2 separate regions of the Homo sapiens genome follow, and region 2 is linked to region 1. Evidence: fine-mapped QTL for protein levels in blood plasma. Region 1 holds a variant in brackets. A gene starts in the other region. All regions are shown on their forward strands.

Region 1 (8,000 bases):
GTGTGAGGATGTTTCCTTTCCTGCTGGGAAGTCCTCCAAGCTCTTGTGAAAGAGATGTGGTTTGTCGAGCATGGATTTTCAAACTTTCTTTATAGAGAGCTGTTGTTAGCTTAAAAATGCCTGGAAACATGATCAAGTGTAATGTTTTAATGATAACATAGAAGCACATAGTACTAAGCACATGTAATGAGAATGTACAGAACTCTCTAGTAAGAGTCTGAAATTTGGCCGGGTGCAGTGGCTCATGCCTGTAATCCCAGCACTTTGGGAGGCCGAGGCGGGTGGATCACCTGAGGTCAGGAGTTCAAGACCAGCCTGGCCAACGTGGCAAAACCCCGTCTCTGCCCAAAATACAAAAATTAGCCGGGCGTGGTGACGGGTGCCTGTAATCCCAGCTACTCAGGAGGCTAAGACAGGAGAATTGCTTGAACCTTGGAGGTGGAGGTTGCAGTGGGCTGAGATCGCACCGTTGCATTCCAGCCTGGGCAACAGAGTGAGACAATGTCTCAAAAAATAAAAAAGAGAGAGTCTGAAATTCATTCTTTCAACATGCTTGTGTTGGGTGCTGCCTGGCACAGCAATTGGTGCCCACTAACTCACAGCGTCGGGGAAGATAGGCACGGAACAAGTCATCTGGTGTGGTCCCTGCAGTGGGGGAGCCCAGTGAGGGCCTGTCCAGCCCAGCTGAGAGGAGACTGAGAGAAGGCTAGGTGGCATAAGTAAAGATATGGATAGCGCTTTCCTCTTCAGAGTGTTTATTACCAGGGTTAGATAAAGCAGATCTCATGTATTTTCTGCTACTAAGTAGAAGTTCTTGTTTTGTTTGATTTCTGGTGGGCTTTGATATTTTCCAAAAAGATAATAACTCATTGTAGAGTAAGATCAGGACTGGGGCCAGCAGACTTGGGTCCAAAGGTGTGTCATTTTTATACCAGACTAGAATCGGGTGAGGGGAGATGTAAAGAGATCACTATTGTCACGGAAGGCGCTGGAAGGAGCTCTGCTTAGAAAAAATGCCTTTCTCTAGGAGGTTTTCATCCAGCATGGGAACACAAAACACCAGTTTAAAATAGCTAGGTAAGGCTTCACAGTCTCTCAATGTGATGTGGGTGTCCTGAGTCGTGAACATCCCATTGTGCAGGATAAAATGCTGGTTTCTGAGCTGTCTTTCAAGACACAACCCAAATGCTGTCTTTGCCATGGTGCCTTCCTTGGGAACCCAAGCCAGGTGAGGTCTGCCTTTTCTCTGATGTTGCCTAACTTTTCCTCTTTGTGTCCCTTGAGCTCAGGGACATGCATCCCCTGTTGTACCTAGCACAGAATCATGCACAAGCAGGTGCTTGTTAACTGTTGGTGTGTACCAACAAACATTTACGGAGCACCTATTAGCAGGAGCACAGGCCAAGGAGCTGGATAGATGAGCGTGGAGTTTGGGGGAGAGGTCTGAGCTGAGATATACATTTGTGAGTCATCATTGTATGGATGAGGCCGGGCTGGGGAGGATATGAGCGTAGAATGAGAAGGTCCAGACCTGCACCTGAAGAACAGCCCCATTTAGGGAATGCAGGGAGAGACAGAGGAAAAGCAAGATGGTGCACAGTGACATTGAAGGTGAGTGACGAGACCCTGCAGCAAGAGGAAAGGAGCAGCAGTGCTAGATGTTGCAGAGAACCCAGAATGGTAAGGCCTGAAAACCATGTGTTTTAGATTCTGTAACCTGGAGGCCACTAGGTGACCTTAGCAAGGGCAGTCATGATGGAGTGTTGGGGCTGAAGCCCATTGCAGGGAGGCCCATAGTCAATGGGAGGTGGGCAGTAGACACAGAGAGCTGGGTTATTCTTGCCACACAGCTGTGCTGGGGCCATGGCGGGGGTGGGGGTGCCACAGAGTGGGAGCCAGAGAGGGACCTGGGTAAGGGCTGACCGTGGGTGGGGAGCGCATGGAGTGCTTTCAGAGGCCAAGTGAGTGGAACTGTCTATGAAGCAGATGGATGGAACCCTGGCTGAATTATCTCAGACTTGCCAAAGACATTCATAAAATTCAGACCCGCACACACTCGGGAATGGGAAAAATGAATTATTTTGTAAGAAGCTTATAGTCCAAAGGTAGAATTGCCCAAGAGAGCTTCTGAAAGGAAAAAGTCATAGCAAGTTGATATTTTTAAAGTGAAATAACATAGGTTGGATTTTTCTAGTAACTTCAAGGGGTAAAGACTTTGAATTTTTTTTTTGGAGACAGAGTCTCGCTTTGTCACCCAAGCTGGAGTGCAGTGGTGCGATCACAGCTCACTGCAGCCTTGACCTCCCAGGCTCAAGCAATCCTCCTGCCTCAGCCCCTCAGGTAGCTGGGATTATAGGCACACGCTACCACGCCTGGCTATTTTTTGTATATTTTGTGGAGGTGGGGTTTCACCGTGTTGCCCAGGCTGGTCTCAAACTCCTGAGCTCAAGCGATCTGCCCACCTTGGCCTCCCAAAGTGCTGGGATTAAAGGCGTGAGCCACTGTCCCTGGCCAAGACTCTGGGTTTAGTAAGCCTCTTGCAACTCACTAGGAGTGGATTTCTAGGACCTCCCCACTTTCTTGCTTGTTGTTTCTTTTGCTAGCCGTAAGTCCCTGGAGTACACTGGGTACTTTATGGGAAAAAGAGGAACAGTGTGGGACAGACTTTGCCCTGGGCTGCTTAACGTGATGTGGGGAACAGAGGTGATAAGAGCCTGTGGCAGCTCAGGCAGCCCTGCCATGACCTGGAGTTGGGGAGGGGTATCAAGGATAACAAGTCTTATACACATGCCATGCTGTTTCTTTGGATCAATAGATGGATAATTTTTAAAACCCCCTGTATGTATCAAACTCACTTTGGAGATGTAAGGCATGGCCTCTGTCCTGGTGACAGTATCTGAGTGGGAGGCCTGGTAAAATGTCTGTGTTTAGGATGATGAACGCCATAATCTAAGACTGCTAAGTGCTGTGGGGTGGTCTAGAAGGGCAGATGGGCTAGCTGCGAGGAGGGCAGAGGCACTGTGCAATGGTGTTGCCTGGGAACACTCCGTGGAGAGTGTGGGAATCTCACCCTGGCCCTACCAGGTAAGAAATTGGGCCTGGGAAATTGGGAAGGGAATTTTTCAAGCTTCATGGCTGCTCCAGGACTTGAACTAAGACTTTCCTTTAGAGCAAGCTTGTCCACCCTCTGGCCCGTGGGCCGCATGTAGCCCAGGAGAGCTTTGAATGCAGCCCAACACAAATTCATAAACTTTCTGAAAACATTGTAAGATTTTTTTTTTGCGATTATTTTTTAGCTCATCAGCTATCGTTAGTTAGCGTATTTTATGTGTGGCCCAAGATGACGACTCTTCCATCGTGGCCCAGGGAAGCCAAAACACCGGACACCCCTGCTTAGAGAAAGTGCGTTTTCTGTTATAAAAGGACCTTGAATCCCCATCTCATATGTTGGGACTTTGTCTTGCATGTTTTCAGGCAGGGCATGATTGTATCTGTAACATAATAATATGTAAGAATGTGTACTTCTTAGCCTTTGCAGAGAGGCGGGAGGCCTGTTTCCTGCAGCCCCCGCCCTGTCCTGGCTGAGGGGTGGGAGGCAGCTTGCTGGCCAGCCCCGCTGAGTCACCCTCCGGCGTGGAGCCCAGTGGGGATTTCCACGCGGCCCCAGTGTTCTCTTCTCCTCGTTTCCTGTTGGGCTGTGACGCAGGCTGGCTGCCAGCGGGTGCCGGTGGGCACTCCTGACACAGGCCACTGCCAGCCGGCCTTGTGGGTCCTGAGGGCATCGTGGGTGGCTCTCCCCCCACGAGTGACTGTGCCTGGCAGGGTGTGCCCCACATGTCAGTTGCACTCCGTTCTGGGTGGGCAGCTCCCAGAGGCCCCGGGGAGGGCTGCAGATGGGCGGGGGGTGGCTGCCTGGGAGGACGGGAGGTTTTGTTGAAGAGAGAGCTTGCTCTTGGGGCAGTTTGTACTGGGCGTTTAGGGTTATAAAAACCTAGATTTGCTGAAAACGGCTCTCTTTTATCTTCTGACAAGAACATTTGTGAAGAAAACAAAACAGACCTTCAGCCATTTAGTCTATACACCGAGAGAATGGTTTCTACAGTATGCCTGATTTCTCTGGGTCTTTCTAACACATCCATGTATGTGCTTGTCAGCTTCTAGTGCCTCCATTTCTTGATATGAGGAAATTTTGCTTAAAAAAAAATCTCTACTGATAGGACCTCTGCATATTCATGCATGTTTTTCCTCCAGAACTTTGTGTCCCACCACTGTGCTAGGCAGTTTACAAATGCCATCTGATTTCATTCCTGCCACTACAGTCTAAGGCTATATTGTCCGATACCTATCCACCACCCTCATGTGGCTATTTAAATGTTGGGTCATTAAAATTAAATACAATTACAAATGCTGTCCCTCAGTCACACCAGCCGCATTTCAAGTGCACGGGTAGGCTAGTGGCCATCAGATCAGCTCATATAGAGCAGCACGTTTTCATCACCACCAAAAATTCTATTGGGTAGCACTGGTCTAAGGTCCGGACATATGTCCCCATTTTGTAGATGAGGAAGCTGAGTCCTACAGAGGTTAAGTTGACCACTTAGAAGAATGAACAGATGAAACCTTTTCATTTTACACATGAGGAAACTGAAGGTTATACTCCCCTTTCCTTCTTAGAAAAGAGAAATTGATCTGTAGGCTTCAGGGACTCTTCAGTTAGCCTGGGGGTACTGTGCGGGTCAGCTCTTTTGCTGTTCCCCCCAGACCCTGTCAGCTGTGGGTGGTGGCTGGTTTCTCTTGGTTTCCTCACCAGAGTTTGGGAATGAGCAAGTCAGGACTGCTTTCCGTACGGTAATCCTTTGGCCCATTTCCTATCGGGGGATTTATGGAGCTGGTGATCTCTTGGGTTTTTTGGCCATTTGTTAGAGCCAAAAGAGGTCACAGGAAATGATATACTAGTTTCATTGCCCAAAATACTGAGGTCCAGAGAGG[T/G]GAGGGGATGCTGAGGGTCTTGCATCTAGCTAAGAGCTGAGCTGGCTCTTAAACTTGTTTTCAAGCCAGGACTTACCTGACTTTCTTAGGAAAGTAATCACTCCATAGACAAGGATAGGTTTTTTTCACAGAGCAATGATGTTCCCTGTGGTCCCTATGTAGGGTGGTAAGGAATAGGGCTTTGGGATCCTACAGACCAGGGTTCAAATCCTGGCCCCACCACTTGTAAGTTATGGGACTTCAGACAAGGACTTAAACATTCTAAGTCCTCAGTTTCTTCATCTGTAAAACAGGGATAAAATATCTCAGTGAATTTGTTTTAAATACTTGCGTCCGGGCATGGTGGCTCATGCCTGTAATCCCAGTACTTTGGGAGGCTGAGGTGGGAGGATCGCTTGAGGCCAGAAGTTTGAGACCAGACTGGCCAGCATAACAAGAACATAACAAGATCTCATCTCTACAAAAAATTAAAAATATTAGCTGGGCATGGTGGTGTGAGCCTGTGGTCTCAGCTACTCGGGAGGCTGCAGTGTAAGGTTGCTTGAGCCAGGAGTTAAAGTCTGCAGTGAACTCGCCACTGTACTCTAGCCTGGGCAACAGAGTGAGACCCTGTCTCAAAAAAAAAAAAAAAAAAAAAAATCAGCCAGGCGCAGTGGCTCACACCTGTAATCCCAGCACTTTGGGAGGCCGAGGCGGGTGGATCACCTGAGGTCAGGAGTTTGAGACCAGCCTAGCTAAAACATGGTGAAATTCCGTTTCTACTGAAAATACAAAAAATTAGTCAGGTGTGGTGGCACACGCCCGTAATCCCAGCTACTCGGGAGGCTAAGGCAGGAGAATCGCTTGAACCCAGGAGGAGGAGTTTGCAGTGAGCCAAGATTGTGCCATCGCACTCCAGCTTGGGCAACAAGAGCAAAACTCCGTCTCAAAAAAAAGGAAAAAAGAATTCTAACATGTTTGAGATTGACTGCAATTCCTAGCATATTACAAGTGTTAGTAAATAGTAGCCATTAATATTATGAGCTTATCATCACCTTCAGCCAGCATTCTAATTTTACAGTATAGAATCCAGTACATAGGAGGCACTCAGATAGACGGGATGCCCCAAAATTGGGAGACGGACAAACTTATTTTGAAATAGTCTTTTTTTGACATTTCCAAAGAATATACTCAATGTTTTTCTGCAACCCTTTGCCTTCTTTTTAGGTGAAGGACCTCTACATTTAAAGCAGTGGGTTCAACTGCTAACCTGAAAAGCTATAATAAAACATCCCAGAGTATCCAAAAAGCCTGGAAACAAAGGGAAAATAGTGTGTCCTGCTTTCCAACTTTCGGATATGCTGTAGAATAGACTGAAACAAATCACTGGAAAATAGGTTGTTGTCGATTTTATTTAGAAGCTTTTGTTCCTTTGGATTTTCGTCTCTTATTTTTAGACAGAGTCTCCCTCTGTCACCCAGGCTGGAGTGCCGTGGTGCAATGATAGCTTACTGCAGCCTCAAACTCCTGGGCTCAAATGATCCTCTAGCCTTGACCTCCTGATTAGCTGGGACTACAGAAGCAGGCCACCACGTCTGGCTAATTTTTGTATTTTTCTGTTGAGAAGAGGTCTTGCTATCATGGGCAGGCTGGTCTTGAACTCCTGGCCTCAAGTGATCCTCCCGCCTCAGCTTCCTGAAGTGGTAAGATTACAGGCATATGCCACCACACCCAGCTTTTTTGTTCCTTTGAAAGAAGGCATTGCTAATGATTGCCCTGAGGTGTCTAGATGACCCGGCCAGCCATCCACCTCTGCAGTTTACACAGCTTGTTGATCTCCACAGTGAGAATTAACTTCACAACCTGGGTCCAAGAGGCTGGAGGATTGTCAGTCTTTAGAAAAAAAAAAATCTATTATCTTTAGAGAAGATGGACTTGTTGAGGAAGAAGAGTAGACAAATACTTTCTGGAAATATTTTCAAAGGGAATTAGAAAAAGAAAAAGATTTTGGTTGTCCTTTGGTGAATGAGAATATTCATCAGCAGAATGCCTCATTACCACGTCACACAGCTGACCAAGGCCTCATCTGAGACTGTGTTTGAATAGAAATTAAACAGGGCTGACAGTGAAGTTTCTGCTTTTAATTAGCTTTCAAAGGTACACCTCTACCTGTGATGTTGAAACATCTTGAAAAACCTCTCTGCTCTGTGCCTGAATGAGGGGCATCTAGAGGGCTTGGAAGAGAAGATGTGGCACAGGGCAGCCGGGGAGAGGCTGGTGGCCAGAAGATGGACCTGAGCTTGGTGAATTTACCTGGCATCTGAGCCTGGCCTGAACAATTCAGAAACCTCATTTCATCAGTCTTGGAGTCAGGGCTCCTGTCTCTTAGCAAAAAGCTAAAGCATACATCAAGCATATTTATTGACAAGCGTAACCACTGTGAGGTTATAACCAGGGTGCTCTGTCTGCTTATGGGCACCCCACCCGACCAGCCAAATGGTCAGAGAGCTGGGTGGGTCGGGGAAAGGGAGGGAGGGAGTCATGGGAAGCAGTTGTGTTGAATGGCTACAGGCCCTGGTGGCTGGGTGCATCCCCGTATGCCATCCAGGCCCACCCACTGCTGGGCCGGACCTTCCCCTCTGGACAGTTCTTGCTTGGGCACTGACTGGGTTTGCTGCTGAACCTCCTGGCCTGGCAGCTCTGGTTGCTGATCCACCCGCTTCTTTCTTTATAGAGATTAAGAGCGGCTCCAGTGTGTGTACGGAGAGCCTCTTTGAAGCGCTGTTGCCTTTCTGTGGCTAGATCCACGATCTTCTCTCTGGGATCACCCCATAGGACATTTGCTTTCCACCTTCTCCAGTCCCAGTGAATGCATGGACCTCTGTCCTCATTGTTACTGGCTGAGCCAGATGTCAGTCCTGTGACCTGGCCTCAGGACCACTCTTGTAGCCCACCGTGGGTGGATGAAGCCGGTGGGAACAGAATGATAGGAGTTAACCACTTTTTAGGCGTTATTGGGCCTTTTCACTTTA
Region 2 (16,803 bases), not on the chromosome of region 1:
AATCTAAAGTAAAGAAACATGAATCTCGGGTTAAAAAAAAGAATCAACATCAATTGAAAGTAAACCATGAAGCAATGACTTGGACATTTTGTTTATCCATGTACAGTGTAGCAAATATTTTCTGCCCTAGCTCTTTAAAATACTTAGTGGGTTAGAAACTCATTAACTTGATTTGTTGGTTGAAGAATAAAGGTTCTCATGCAAATTACATTCTGTTACATCCTGGTCTTTCTCAGGAGGCTTCTCCCTTGTATCTCATGGTTCCCAGGGTCCAGGAAGATAAGACCACCATTAATATGTACAGAATTCATCTTATCTCTTTTTAAAATATAAATTCTGCCCTCACTATTTTAATAAGGGGTCAGCAAGCTTTCACTAAAAAGCAAAAGTCAGCAAACTTCTTTTTTAAAAGACCAGATAGAAAGTATTCTTGGCTTTGCAGAATTTGTGCTGTCGATTTTACAGAACTAACCTACAGCTAGAACCAAGATCAAGCTTCCCCTCAGCTGGCTAAGTGGTGAGACATACCTGATCATTCTTGTTACAGAATTCTGAAAGACAGTATAGTGAAAAAGTTACCTTTAAATATTATTTATCAAAGATAATACTTCTTGCTGTGCCTAGGTCCTGGAACTGTCAGAAACATCAAATAGCTGCAGAGGGTGGATTGCTTTGCAGGCTATATGGTTTCTGTCACAATTACTCAACTCTGACACTGTAGTGAAAGCAGCCATAGACAATTCGTAAACAAATGAACATGACTGTGTTCCAATAAAACTTTATCTGCCAAAACAGGTGATGAGTCAGATTTGGCCCACAGGCCATAGTTCACTGATCCCCTTTTAGATGATTGTATAAACTATGATCATTTTGAAAATGTTGTTGTCATTAATCACTTAAGAGATAAATTGTATCTTTTTCTCTTTTCTTTGTGTTTTTTTTGTTTGTTTGTTTTCAATTTGAAGCTTTGTCCTTTGCTTCAAACTTTGTTTAAAAACTCAGGAACATTTCTGATGTTTGATAGAGCAACCTGAGGATTTTCTCCTTTCTGCAGCTACATATTTATGTATTAGTTTTATTTTTTGAGACAGGGTCTTGCTCTGTCACCCAGGCTGGAGTGCAGTGGTGCAATCACAGCTCACTGCAGGCTCGACCTCCCAGGCTCAGGTGATCCTCCTGCCTCAGCGGCCCCAAGAGCTGGGACTACAGGTGTGCACCACCACACCAGGGTAATTTTTGTATTTTCTAGTAGACAAGGTTTTGCCATGCTGCTGAGGCTAGTCTCCATCTCTGGCTCAAGCAATCCACCCTCTGCAGCTATTTGATGAGATGTTTCTGACAGTTCCAGGACCTAGGCACAGCAAGAAGTATTATCTTTGATAAATAATATTTAAAGGTAACTTTTTCACTATACTGTCTTTCAAAATTCTGTAACAAGAATGATCAGGTATGTCTCACCTCTTAGCCAGCTGAGGGGAAGCTTGATCTTGGTTCTAGCTGTAGGTTAGTTCTGTAAAATCAACAGCACAACCATTACTCCTGCTACATAAAATGGGCCATGATCAAATCCAGTACACCAAACATTCTGAGAATAACTGTCAGTGAATGCCCAATACCTGAATTACACCCGGGGTATGTCTTAGGCACACTGTATTCTCCAAAAATGACTGAAACGTTATCTCCCATTCCTCAAGCTATTCTGCAATGTGAGGCTGCCACTTCTCCATCAAGGTGTGAGGCCTATTTCTGCACCCGCTTCAATCTGACAGTTTTGACGAACAAGTGGAGAGTAACTGTGCAACAGTCCCAGGCTTAGGCCATAAAACTAGCCTGTCAATCTCTGCTTTCAATTTGCATGGAAACTTTTATTCTTAGACCAACAAATCCAGTTAATTAATTTTTAACCGACTATCTTTTTTTCTTCAACTTTTAAGGTCTGTACATGCGCAGGATGTGCGGGTTTGTTAACGCAGGTAAATGTGTGTCATGGTGATTTACTGCACAGTACCTCCTATCGCCTAGGTATCAAGCCCAGCATGCATTAGCTATTATTCCTGATACCCCACCTCCAACAGGCCCCAGTGTGTGTTTTTCCCCTCCCTGTGTCCATGTGTTCTCATTATTCAACTCCCACTTATAAGTGAGAACGTGCAGTATTTGGTTTTCTGTTCCTGCATTGGTTTGCTGGGGATAATGGCTTCTGGCTCCATCGATGTCCCTGCAGAGGACATGATCTCATTCTTTTTTATGGCTGCATAGTATTCCATGGTGTACACATGCCACATTTTCTTTATCCAGTATATCATTGATGGGCATTTATATCATTTTCTTTATCCAGTATATCATTGATGCACATTCATGTCTTTGCTATTGTGAATAGTGCTGCAATAAACATACATGTGCATGTTTCTTTATAATAGAATGCTTTATATTCTTTATATTCTTTTTTTTTTTTTGAGACAGAGTCTTACGCTGTCATCAGGCAGGGGTGCAGTGCCATGATTTCCACTCACTACAACCTCTGCCTCCCGGGTTCAAGGGATTCTCCTGCCTTAGCCTCCCAAGTAGCTAGGACTGCAGGTGCACACCACCACAACAGTTTTTTTTTTTGTTTTTGTTTTTTGTTTTTGTTTTTTTTTGCTAGAGATGGGGTTTCAACATGTTGGCCAGGATGGTCTCGATCTCTTGACCTCGTGATCTGCTACATTCCTTTGGATATATACCCAGTAATGGGATTGCTGGGTCAAGTGGTATTTCTGCCTCTAGGTCTTTGAGGAATTGCCACACTGTCTTCCACAATGGTTAACTAATTTATACTCCCACCAACAGTGTAAAAGCATTCCTTTTTATCTGCAGCCTCACCAACATCTGTTGTTTTTTTGACTTTTTAATAATAGTAATTGTGACGTGTGAGATGGTATCTCATTGTGGTTTTGATTTGCATTTCTGTAATGATCAGTGGGGATGTTGAGCTTTTTTTCACGTATTTGCTGGCCACATGTATGTCTTCTTTTCTAAAGTGTCTAATTATGTTCTTTCCCCACTTTTTAATGGGGCTGTTGGTTTTTGTTTTTTTCTTGTAAATTTGTTTAAGTTTCTTATAGACTCTGGATATTAGACCTTTGTCAGATGGATAGATTGCAAACATTTTTTCCCATTCTGTGGGTTGTCTATTCACTCGGATGATAGATTCTTTTGCTGTGCAGAAGCTCTTTAGTTTAATTAGATCCCATTTCTGACTGAGCATTTTAAATCCTGAGCTACCATATAGGAAGTCCAGCCTATTCTGCAGGACAGAGTGATCATGTGGAGAAGCACTGTGGCATATCGGATGTGCAGCTCAGTCAAGTTTTGGGATGACTCTTGCACCCCATCTCTGACTGTGCCATTTGAGAAATCACAAGTGAGAATCATGCAGCTGAGCCAAGTCAACACACAGAACCTTGAGAGAAAACAGTGAATTTGTATTTCAAACTACGAAAAGTTTTAAGGTGGTATGTTTATAGCAACAGATAACTGGAACAGGAACTGACAAGCATAGAGAAAATCTGGGTTGGTGAGAATTAAGGAATTCATGAAAAAAGAGATAAAATAAAATGATAACACAATGCAGATAAACATGGAATTAAAAATAAGCTAAGACGATATACACCCTAATTTGGTAAGAAAATATTAATACATGTTCGATACAATGAATAGCTAGCTGGTAAAAGTCCTCAAGTTCTGTATCCTGAGAAGAAGATTCTTGGTCTTGAAAAACAAAACAGCAACCTCTGAAAAAGACTATTATGAGGGTAAGAGATATTTTCCTCTTGAGGTCACACAACAAAGTTTTGCAGCCACTTCCAGCAATGTCACCATGTCCTGAAGGAAAGGGCTAGCATCATTATAATTATATTTTAACTACATCCTCTGAGTTACATTTTAAGGTGGAGTAAGACATCTCTCTAATATAAAAATAAAAGCAAATTATATTGACATGTCTTCTCTTTGCTTGTAATAGAGGAATGGGTAAACAAAAAGCCCAGAGGAATGAACACAGCTAACTTCATGCTCTGCTGTGACCCTCCATGATTCTGCATCTGGCTGAAATTTTTATGGCTTCTGTTGAAATTCCCAAATGCTGACAGAAAAAATAATAACTAAAAATAAAATTAATTTGAGGGTAAAGGAGAAAGTTGGTTGTAAGTGATGCTTTAGAAAAGGTGACCTTTTTGAGCTTAGGATGATTATTGATACTCATGAATGAACACGTTTAAAATGAAAACATTCCTTCTGCTAAAAACAGGGCAAGACTCCCAGCACACTCATTCTGGACTCTTATTTTGGATATCAGTGGGAAGTAAATACTTCTATGAAATGCCTAAAGCCTTGACCAATCTAAGCATCTGTATGGTAAAGAAGAGATTACTCAACATGGACCCCTCTGTTCTATTCACAACACTTCAAAGACTTCCCCACTGATCCAGGAGGGGAAATACTGTATATTTGTAATGTATGTAAATTAGAAGATAGAGAGTTATTTTGGCAAGTTAGAACATACAGAAAAGTATATTGTATATGTAAAACAGAAACTTATTTTAGTTAGAACATATGGAAAAGTGTATTGTGTGAGTCTGTCTAAAATGATGACAGAGAAATGTGTTACCTTAATAGAGTCAAGAATAAATTGGGGACCATGATAGCAGGGGAAAAAGGACTTCCTAGAATACTAAGTTTAAAAAAAAATGTATACCAAAGCAATTAATCCCAGAGCACAAGTACAGAAAAGATGGGTCCTAGAAATAGATGAGAAAATAAAACAAACAAACAAAAAAGCCTTATTCCTGGGTGAGAGTCTAATAGCTGGAACTGATAGTATAGGTTCCTAGTTAGCTAGCATTTTATATGATTGTTCACACTCAAGTGATCGATAAGAAATGAAAAACCCACGACAGGATGAAGCATGTTCCATGGAGTACTTCCTTCCAGATTCTCTTTGAGGAGCAACTCTGTGTGTCAGTCTGACCCAGCAAAGTCAGGCTAGGTGCATCATTGGTGGAGGTGTCCATTTTTGAACCAGGAACGAGGAACCAGAAAAAAGTTCAAGTGTCCATTTCTTTCCCTTCTCAGTTGTTTCCCATTTTTCTTTGTTTTGTTTTGTTTTCCAGTTAAATAGAGATGGTGTGAAGATACATATTTTTTTTACAGACTCCTGGTTTTAACTTCAGTTATTGGTTCCTTAGAAATGCCATGGCAAAACTCTCTATTATACAATAACCTTTAGGAAACTTATATTGAGTTTTTGAAGTTCAATTTCAACACAGAGGGCAAGTTTTAAGAGGGTAGAAGTAAAAATCTCTACTGCATGGAACTTAGGCAAAGGATCATTCTCCTAATTTTTTTTCCCCAGAATTTCTTCTCTGCAACCTTCTAGCCAGAATAGGCTCTCATTTTTTTTTGCTTTTGTCAATTGTAGGTTCTAAATTTAAAACTCAAGTTGAATTTTTTTATGTAGCTTTGAATTCATTTTAGCTTTGAGAGCAGTATATTTAGCTACTGCCAGTTCACCCCTTGGTAGGACTAGTAGCTAAGCCAGTTTTTTTCTCTTAAAACTCTATAAATTTTCTTATCCTAGAACACAGGTTTTTCTAGATCATAATTAATTTTCCATCACTCAAATGAAAGGGAAATCTTTTTCATGCACACTGAAATTTATTTGAAACTAAGAAAAATGCATTTGAGGAATATCTGAAATTATTTATAAAATTATAGCAATAAAAAAATGAACATTTCCTAAGGCACATATCAAGTGTTTGCTCTATAACTGGATCATTCAAAATATAAAGTTAATGTTATGAAACAGTGTAACAGCTTAAAACACTGCATTATATACACATTATTATAGAAATTCCTGAATTATTTATTGCTTCAATAGCATATCCAAAGTTGAAAATGAGCATTTTTTGTGGATTTCACTTGTCTTCCATTTAGAAAGCTCTATATTTCCATTCAGTCTCAGAGTTGGCTGAACACTCTTTGTTGCCTTCTTTCCTTCCTTGACTTCCATTCCCTTGTTAGCTCCTTTCTATATCACCCAAATCCTTTTTTTTTTTTTTTTTGGACTTTGCTGAAATTCTGGTCATGGATACTGTGCTCCTTATTTTCAGTTGGAGAAACTGAGGCACAGAAAAGTTCAAATTAGTTGTTTAATCAACTTGCCACAGTAAACAGGTGGTAGAGTCAGGATTTGAACTCAAGTCTGTTTGCCTCCAAAGCTACTAGAGTTCTAGAGTTCAATATTTCCACTGTCAATGACAATATTCAAATATTCTAAAATCTATGCTTGAATGGTTGTAAGTCAACAGTGGCCCCACCCAATAGCTCAAACCTAGTCCTGGAAGATGTTCTTAAAAGCAGTTCTGTAAAAGCAGAACTACTGTTTGATCCAGTAATCCCATTACTGGGTATATACCCGGAGGAATATAACACATTCTTCCATAAAGACACATGCACACGGCTGTTCATTGCAGCCCTGTTCACAATGGGAAAGACATGGAATCAACTTAAATGCCTATCAGTGACAGACTGGATAAAGAAAATGTGGTATGTATACACCATGGAATATTATGCAGCTATAAAAATGAAAGAGATCATGTCCTTTGTGGGAACATGGCTGGAGCTGGAGGCCATTATCTTCAGCAAACTAACGCAGGAACAGAAAACCAAATACCACATGTTCTCACTTATAAGTGGGAGCTAAATGATAAGAACTTATGAACACAAAGAAGGAAACAACAGACATTGGGGTCTACTTGAGGGTGAAGGGTGGGAAGAAGGAGAGGAACAGAAAAGATAACTATTGGGTACTGAGCTTAATACCTGGGTGATGTAGTAATATGTACAACAAACCCCAGGGACATGTGTTTATCTATGTAATGAACCTTCACATGTACCTCCAAACCTAAATAAAAATTTTTTTAACAAGAAGACATGAGGTGAGGGAGAGGAGGAAAAGCAGCTCTGGATACTCAAAAGAGGAACAGCAGAATTTAGATATGATAAAAAAAAAAAAAGAGAGAGTTAGCTTGACCTAGAAAAGGCACCATTTTCTCAGGTAGAACTTATGAAATACTGTTTTGTTTGTGTTTTATGTTTTGGTTTTTGTCTATTTGGAGGGTTGAGATAAATTGACAGTTTACACTTAAATCTTATTATATATCATTTGTATATATAATATACAACTGTTAAAGGTGTGTTTCACTGTAGGTAGTTCTTATCACAAAGTATAGGTTAAATAACTCTTACATAATTTCTTATTGATGCTTTAATATATAGTCATAATGTCAATGACCTTTACAGGTATTATAATATTTTTATATTAAGTGGAACCTCTCAAACTATTACAATTATTTTGGTAGCCAGTTTGGGCAAAACAAGAGAGCAGGCAATCGCACTGGAAAGGCTTATTCTAGTATAGGTTTGTTACTTGTTTCATTAAGAAATTGAGTGTCTTAAATTGTCCATCTTATAAAATTTGTCTAAATCCAAACTCACAATATTTTCCTCAAAACCATTTTCTTCTGCATTTTTTCCAATATGAAGAAAAAATCAACTTTACTCTTCCAGTTGCTCAGGTCAAAACCTTGGTGTCATCCTGATTCTTGATTGTTTTCTCACAGGCCACATCTGGTACCTCAGCAAATCCTATTACCATTTTTCCCCAAACTTCTTCAGAATATGACCACGTCTCATCATCCCTTCTGCCGCACTCAGGTTCAAGCCTCCATCATCTCTGGCTGGGATTATTACAAGAGCTTCCTAGCCATTCTCTCTGCCTTTTTCCTACTTCAGTCACTCCTCAATCATGCCTGTGCTTAAAACCTCCAAGGACTTTTCTTCTCACTCATAGCAATGTCAAAAGCATTGCAATGACCTACAGGTCCTATACCATCTGCCATCTAATACCCTTCTGACCTCATTTGTTGCTATTCCCCTTGCTCAGGCCTCCAACCAAAGTGGCCTCTTCTCTGTTCCTGGAACAAGTCACAAGGCTTTTATTTCTGGGGCACTATTTTTCTTATTTCTTCTTCCTGGAATGGTCTTCCCATAGACAGTCATATGGCTGCAGGCTTATCTGAGTCTGTTCATGCTGCTACTACAGAATACCACAGACTGGGTAATTTATAAAAAACAGAAATTTATTTCACACAGTTCTGGAGGCTGGGAATTCCGCAATGAAGAGGCCAGCATGTTCATTGCCTGACGAGGGCTGTCTATCTCTTCTTCCAATTTGGCACCTTGCTACTGCATCTCCAGAGGGGACAAATGCTGTGTCTTCACACTGCAGACAAGCAGAAGGGCAAAAAGGGACTAGCTAGTTTCTTCTTGCCCTTTTATAAGGTCATTAATCCCATTCATACTGGGGTCTGCCTTCATGACTTAATCACCTTCTAAAGAGCCCATCTCTCAATACTGTCACCTTGGGTTTAAGTTCTAACATGGGAATTTTGGAGGGACACGTACATTGAAACCATAACAAGGTCTTTACTCAAAAGTTGCCTTCTCATTGAGGCCTTCCCAGGACTTCCTATCTAAAATTTCAACCCAGTGTCCCCACCCCCAATGCTTGTTACTCCCCAACAATACTTTTTCTCCTTAGACTTAGTATATGTCACTATCTAATCTATTTAACTCATTTATCTTGTTTATTATCTGTCTCCCTTATTGGATTCTAAGCTCCAGGAAGACAGGGATTTTTTTCTGTCTTGTTTTGTTCACTGCAGTTTCGCCAATGCCTGTCACACAGTAGGCACCTAAAACATTTTTGTTAAATGTTGCTGAATTTCACTTAGATAAAATTGACATCATAAACTTTCTACATAAAAGGATAGCAAAAATGTTTTCCATTTCTAAACTTGTTAGGTATTCAGTCAGTCCTAATTAGCAGTTCTGAAATCAATTTTGATTATCTGACAACATGATGTCCAAACTGAGGTATTTATATTTTCTGTTTATCCCACTTTCTGGAACATTTGATAGTAGCTTTCTACCACAAACACATTTTTAGATTAAAATTACTTCACCCCCTATGGTTATCTGTGGGCGCTTGTAACAAATTGTTTGCTAGCGCTGAGTGAGCCAGTGCTGATTGGCCATTGGGAACTCTAACAAACTTTAAATTTCAGCAAAATGCCCAGAGACTTCTAATCCTGCAACAAGAAGCCAGGTATTCTGAAGGTGAAAGATACCAGGTAATTTGGCTTTCATGTTCTTGACAGCAAATAGCTTTATATCATAGTTGTTTACGTTTTTAAGATGCTTGCCACCCAAGTATGGTTTTATTACTTTTGAAAATCTTCTCTACTGAGCAAAACTGTGTAATATTTGGTGCTTTGTTTTATAAAATAGGAAATGCGTTACCATGCTCTAGAAATCATCAACTAAAATTGATGATTTGATAGCAACTTTCTCTTTTTTTTTGTTATTAGCATTATCAAGATCCACAGTAACTCAGACTTCAGTTTTCTTCTATCCCTTCACTTAACAAACTGCAATCAGGAAAATCTGATCTTATTCATACTTTGAAACCTCATCTGTGTTGATATTTCTACTGATGAGCATTAACTCATTTCATAAGTTACTTACGTTGTCCTGATCTATAAAATGCTTGGAAGGGTAAACTATAGTTAGAATTTAGATCCTTCTAATTGCATTAATTTAGAAAAACATAGCCTAGGATTTTAGAATATATTTAATAGTTACAATCATTTCTCCAAATACCAGCTTTTCCTTGAGGTGTTTAAAGATTGCAAGAATATTTAGATTATTTTTTCCCATAAAAACAAGTTTTTCTTCAAGAAATCTCAGAGTGGCATAAATTTATTGTTTTCACAATATAATAATAAGATCAATAGTCCAAAGACATGTTGACTTTTTTCCAATCTAATGGCTACTTAAGTGAGCTCACTAGTTCCTGTTGGTATATTTACCAAAATATAAACAAATACCTTTATTTGTAACTAAATGTTAGTATTTTGAACATCATTTTGTTGAGCCCAATATAAAATATGATTTGCCTTTAAGTCAACTGTACATGGATTTTTCTGTAATAAGATAAAAGAATAGAAAGTTATTTAAGGTGGCAGAGAGTCTTGATGAAGAAAACTGGGTCTAGAGCCACATTGCCTGGATACTAATCCCAGTTCTGCCCCTTAATATTTGTGAATTCTAAAGCAAGTTATTTGATCTTTTTGTGTCTATTTCCTAATCTATACAACAGGCATAGTAACGCCGCCTAACTTGTAGGGTTGTTGTGAGGCTCAAATAATTGAATGCATGCAAAATTCTTAGACCCAGTGCTTGGCTCATTTTAGTATTCAATAAATGTTAGCCATTAATGTCAGTGTTGCAAAAATTAGTTCACTCTCCAGCCCATGGATGGCTACTAATTCAGACACATTGCTAATGAACATGAGACACAGATTAGGGCACCAGCCCGGAGGCAGATAAGCTTTCCTCACAGTGCAATCTGCTACCCTGACAAACTTAGAGTGTGTTATGAGCTGCTACATCAACTTAATGTCATTTTGAATTACACAAATAATTAAACAATCTCTTTCTAAAGACAAGAGGAAGAAGAGCTGATGATAGAGCAAATAAATGTGTCTATAAAATATATTTCTATCAACTGACTTTACTGTTTTAATGATATTGAATAATTTTCATTTTCACATTGGAATAACTAGACATATGAAAGTTCTTAAAATGTCCACACTCGGGTATAAGCAAGTTATACATAGTCTATACACACACATACACAAAAGGATATGAACTGCCAAGGGGAAGGGTGTTTATATATTCCTATGTGTTTTATCTCTTCTTATGGCTGCAGTTTATAACTGGCAATGCTTTGTGGTAAGATATTGTTGTCTTTTTACAGAGATTCTCAAAGATGCGAGTTTTCTGTGTGGGACTACTCCTTTTCAGTGTGACCTGGGCAGCACCAGTAAGTATTTACAAATTCAATTATATTTCAGATAATCTCTTGCTCTCTTCATTTGTTTTTCTTTCAAGCAACGTCTATTTAAATTAGTAGCATCTACCTAATTCAGTTATTTTAAAAAGAACCAAGCAAACAGAAAGCATCTAGCACTTAACACTCTTAACAAAGGAGGTTCTCAATAAACATGTGCTGAATTATGAGATCTGACAACATTGTCTTTTAAGGAACACCAAAAACAGATTTTTTGAGAAAACCAAGAGGCAGCCGCAGCATTTCAAATCAGCTGATACTAATGAGTGATACTCAAAGACTCAAATTATAACATGGTAAAATAATCTTTGACTATTTTCCTGTAAACTTAAAGAATTTGACATGAATGTTTTAAAGCTAACCAGCTAGATTTAGTAAATAGATAAAAATGCAAAGAGACAAGAACTCTTCTGTATTTCTTGCAACACCCCAATACTGTGGGATCCTACTTGTGATTTTCTCTTCATCAGCGAGGCTAGAGGTGGGACGTAGTACCTCCAAGCTTAACCCAAATCAAGCTCCTACTTCCTTGTGTGTCTTTTCTTCCCTCTGACTCACCCAGTTGAATATTCAGGATGTGACCAAATTATCTTGTGAAAATGCTGAGTGTTAGTTATTTTCTGCAATGCAGACACAGTGCTAATTAGATAATGTCTGAGCAGCATCCTAACTTATCAGAATAACCTTTTTGGTTGGAGAACCATGGAAACAAATAGTCATCCCATTGCCAATCATACTTATATATAGGTCCTGAGTGAGTGGGTGACTGCTAGGGTAACCAGGCTGATGAGGATGACCAGGGAAGCAGAGGGCCTCATGGAGGGCAGTGGAAGTTGGGGAAATGTGTTCCCTTCTCCGCACACACTCTGTGCAACAAGGGTGTGCAGTACAGTACTGTGGAGGCTGTACTGCTCACAACACACATTTGCGAGACCCCATGCACAGACCTCACTCAATCAAGGCCTAGAGGCTCAGGTGCCTCTCCCACCTCTCACGGTGGAAAAATGAGTCTTGCTGACCTAGCTCAAGTTGGCCAGCTGAAGATTTTATTTTGAGCAACATGTTCCAAGAAGCAGCTGGAGTGGGGCTTTCTCATCATTTTCCAGTAAATGTGCTATGTCAACATTGATTCAGTGACCACTGATCAGAAGAGGATGCCAGCTTTCCTGCCCAGAGGCAGACAATGCCATCTCCATTACAGGGCCACATTCAAGCCTAAGACATCTGCTTGGGGGTATAGAGGGGACAAGGGAGGGATGCGTATTTCAAATGAAAGCAGCTCAGCAAGGATGCAGAGGCAACATTTGTAACTGTGAATCATTAAATATGATGTTTTCTTCCAGGTATATAGATGCCATTTTAGTAATTACCTGAATTTTTAAATGATAGATTGGTGGCTTAAGAAATTAGTATATACTCAGCCACTTGCATACGTCTTAGAATTATAAGCCAAATTCTAAATGATTTTTAAAAGGAAGAAAATGAATGTTTATTAGGCTATGCAATTCGGTTAATATTCATCAAGATGCAGTTAGACTAGAAAGACTTTGTTATAAGTCACAATAAATCAAAACTGTACCGAGGTACTCTATATTGTCAAGTATGTTTCTAATCCATATGTGTGTGTGTGTGTGTGTTCTGTAAGAAGATCCCTGACACCCCATACTATCATTTCTTTCTTTTGCTTAATATCTGCCCATCTCATTTTTATGCTTTCTTCTTCCTATAGTCCAATTTCCAGAACTGTTTGCCCTGGTTTTATATTTTTGAAGAGTGATATAATTGTCCAAATTTATATTCACATGATCATATAAGAATCAACATAAGAAATGCAATAAAGGATAAAACTATAAAAGATGCCTTGACGATAATTAATATAAAGTTTAGGAACATTTCCTCTTATTACTAAATGCTTTTTCATATTTAATCATTCAAAAATTTATTATTTTAACCCTGGGACTTTGAGGCAGAAGATTTAAATTAAAATATCTTCTCTACTTCTACTGCAACTACCAACTATGAGTGTAGGCACTTCTGTTTCTTCTACTGCTCATCTTATAAAGGTTACTTTGGGACTCATATGAGATTATAAGTACAAAAGCAGTTTACAAACTATAAAGAGTCCTATAAATAGAAGGTGTTATTGATAAACTATTGTTATTTTCTAGAATGGAATTGAATATTAGGCAGCTATGCCTTGGAGTCCAGCCATGGAGGTGCTTTCTAAACTTCTGAGTTTTATATTTTGAAGATGATTTTATCTGCCAGAGTCCAGTCCAGAAAACAAAATCCACTACAGGGAGCTCAGTAGAGCGACTTTCTAAGGGAAGCTAGCTATAAAGTATAAGGAAGAACAGAAAAGCCAACCAGGGGTGGTGAGACCACCCAAGGATCGAAGCTATTACCAGGCTTAGGGCTGGAAGGAAAAAAAAAGGTGCTGCTCCTAGGCCCCTGGCTGGGGGAACTAGGACCACAAAGGAGATGTACCCAACTCTAGAGATGCAGCCCCAAACACGGAGAGTAGAGAAGGACATACCCTGGCTTCTCTCTCCTTCCCCCCCTCCAGACTCATGCCAGGCCTCCTTCACCCAAACCCAGTCTGAACACAGAGGGCAAATGAGCTTGGGAAATGAAGGAATCAGTTCAGATTGAGCTGGAGATACAAAGGAGCTGAGAGCAAGCAGGGGCATTCCCAATATCTTAGTGCAAGCAACAACCTGTCTGTATTAAACAAAATATAGAAGCTTAAGGCTTCTTCAGGAAGAACACTTTCCAGGTAAATAGGACAGCTGGCCTAGGCGGCCCTCTTTCTGTTTATCTCTTTATTCAATCTTTCCCTTAAGGGGTTCTCTCTTTTATATGATTGATCCACCATGATGCCTGCTTCCACTGTAGCACACCCATTCAAACACGGCCCAGTCCGCCCATTGGTTCCCAGTGCCACATCTGAGATAGGCTAGGAGTTTCTGAAAGAAAGAGGTAAATGAAAAATACTGAGAATTAAAGAACTTACATCTATTCCTTTAATAAAACAGTTGCTCTCAGATTTTAGGGTCCCTGTTCTGTGTGCTTTCCTGTGGTATGCAAACTTCAGCCCAAAGGACTGGGACAAACTGCCGAGGTCTGTTCTTTCTTCATTTCTGCCCTTTCTGCGCTTCAATAGCTACCCCTCACCCTACGCTACCCTCAAGAAATTTTGACACTTTATGTCAAACCAAGAAACAGAATTTATCCTAATCTGCTGGCCACCTCCATTTTTCCTTCTCAGAATGTAACATCTGGCAGCAATAAGTTTTTGTCCTTAATTGCGATCCTACCATTCACATGAACGGCTATGGTTTGACTCTCCCTGGGCCATCAGCAGCATCATATCTTAATTCAATATTACAGTTACTCAACTTATATAATTAATGCACACACACAATTTAAATCGTCAAACTCTGATTTTAGTTCACTTATATTTAACAACTCCCAGTTTGCCAGTGAAAACTTCTTTTTCAGTGGATTCTGATGGCAGCCAAGCTCCTTCGTCTGGGGTGCCATCCCTCCCTACTCCCCCACCACACCCACTTAGCGGTTGTCTGAGCTTGAATCCAGTTCTGTAGTGGAGACGGCACTGTCTCCCTCTGGGGGCAGAAAGCTGGCACTGTCTTTCGTAATATTGAAACAAATATTATATTAATGCGATGAGTGTGTCAATCTTCTTTTGGTTAGAATGATTTTCCACAGTGAATAATACAACTCAGTGAGAGAAAAATAAATGAAACATTTGTTTGAAGAAGTTAATGAAATAGAATGTTCTAGTGGGTGAAGTTTTGTTTCTTGTTTCCTTTCAGACATTTCAACCACAGACTGAGAAAACTAAGCAAAGCTGTGTGGAAGAGCAGAGGGTAAACAGAATTCATCTTTTCAAATAACTCTATTTCAGCTCTATAAAGAAAAAGTCAGTAAGAGAAAAGTGTAACTGTCAAAATAGTCTTGGGCACTTTGAATGGAAGTGAAAAAATATACAACATAATGTTGGCACTTTCTAGTCAATCAGGTATTGTAACTCACACACCATGTGTGACAGAAAAGAGGAAAACATTGTGAATAGAGATTTATTTCTCCCCAGTATGATTTCTTCCTTCAAATGAAACAATGCTTTGCCAGGCAACCTTCATGGGGCTAAGTGAGTAAGAATTTGGGAACATTGCTACTAGCAAACAATATTTTCCCACACATGTACCTGACAAACACTTTGCTCTCAGAATGATAAATAAGGGAGTAAAGGGGAAGGTGGCTATCAGATCTGAATGGGGAATTCTATGTCCGTGGAGTCAGCTTTCCATATGCATCCAGTTAAATGAATCCTCCCCGCTTTGCATGCCACCAAATTGCAGCTTGCTTCTGCCTATCACAGAAAATTATGTTCTAAGAACTAACAATCTTCTGTACTTCATCTCAGCTGAAAATTACAAAGGCCAACGTTGCCAGCTTAAGAGCCTGAATGTTCATGCTGTGAGTTTTGCCAATTAGACATCAGACATGAATATTGTAAATCCTGTCTTTCTCCTGGTCCTCTCACCCCCTCCCACCTGAAAATATTTCCACATGCTCCATTTCCATAGACGTTTGGTAATAAAATCGATCCACCCTAGGACAGAAAGCAGTTGACAGGCCCTTAGGGAAAACAGATTTAGAGTTATGTAGAAAAGAGAAGGAACAAGTTGCTGTCTTCGGGAGCCGGCTGACACACACCCTCCTGTGGTTATAAGAAGTACTACCATTTGTCAGAGGTAGAATTCAACTTCACCCAACTTTTAAAGTTTCTTATATTATTACAAAGAGCCCAAAAACTTCTTTGTAAGAGATAAAACGTGCCTCAATATAATGTTGTGTTTTTGTAGATAACATACAAGGGTCACTATGAGAAACATGGGCATTATGTTTTTAAGTGTGTTTACATGTCACCTGAGAAGAAAAATCAAACTGATGTAAAGGTAAGCTGAATCTCTGAATGACCATTCTCAGCATGACTAAACTCTGGACTAGCCCTAGAGGAAAATGTAGGGGAGGCAAAGTTTACTTTTGCTTGCTCTGGGGTTTCTGTCTTATGGCTGGCACTTTTGTCCCTTCCCTCCCTCCCCAGGCTCCTCAAGCCTCTCTACTACAAAACTCTGGGTCCCAGAATCTTCCTGATCCCCATCCCATGCCTCGGCCCACATCTCGCTCTGCTTCAGGACCTGTGGCTGCAGGTGTGATACTCATGGACCTCAGGTGCCCATGGACTGCTGTGTTACTGCTTCTGAGTAACATTTGGTGTTTTATAAGAAAGTTTTCTTGACATATTCTACCATATGCTCTGATGGTGGGGATCTCAGCAGGGGACGGCTAAGAGGAAAAACCATTTTGGCCTAATGAGTGACACATTTTACTGTCTCTTAAATTCATTCTATGGATAACTCCATCTGTGTTGGGTTGCTCAGAAGTAAAAGAATGAGGCCCTTGTCACTACAATGACAATAATTCTTTTCACTCAGTCCCTTCTTGTAGATTCATCGGCCAAAGGGCTGGAAATAGCTTGAAATGCCATCAGCAAAAGGGCTATTTACTTTTTCCAAATCTGGTTTTATTTCCCATGGAAGTAATAGTTTCCCTTCAGAATGTTATTTTCTTCTGCCATCGATATCCTTTAGATGACATCTCTAAGACTACACCTAACTATAAATAAGTTAAAACATATCCATTTGCCAAATATATGTGGAGTTCTTAACTGGTGTGTAAGATACTATGTGAGATAAAATGAT

Alleles and levels. Alleles are on the strand shown, and positions count from the first base shown. The strength of an association depends on the size of the effect and on how common the allele is.
In carriers of allele T in region 1, the plasma level of the protein whose gene starts at base 9,188 in region 2 tends to be lower than with G alone (weak association).

What was found. A credible set is the group of variants that fine-mapping cannot tell apart. PIP is the posterior inclusion probability: the model's chance that the variant is causal. The UK Biobank Pharma Proteomics Project read protein levels with antibody pairs (Olink). The fine-mapping took linkage between variants from a reference panel, not from the people measured, so its PIPs are less certain.
Region 2: MEPE starts here. The variant in region 1 is the best candidate, but not a certain one, in a credible set for the plasma level of the MEPE protein (UK Biobank, PIP 0.90).

The regions. Positions count from the first base shown.
Region 1 is chr15:67,117,584-67,125,583 of GRCh38, forward strand. All of the region lies in intron 1 of SMAD3 (SMAD family member 3), which reads left to right. Among named protein-coding and RNA genes, the nearest start is that of SMAD3-AS1, 25 kb to the right of the region's middle. RefSeq lists enhancers at 2,516-3,373, 3,352-3,791. The variant T/G (reference allele first, on the strand shown) is at 4,990.
Region 2 is chr4:87,823,782-87,840,584 of GRCh38, forward strand. MEPE (matrix extracellular phosphoglycoprotein) reads left to right here and starts at 9,188. Exons shown (of 4, transcript NM_020203.6): 1 at 9,188-9,233; 2 at 10,922-10,987; 3 at 14,851-14,904. The coding sequence starts at 10,934.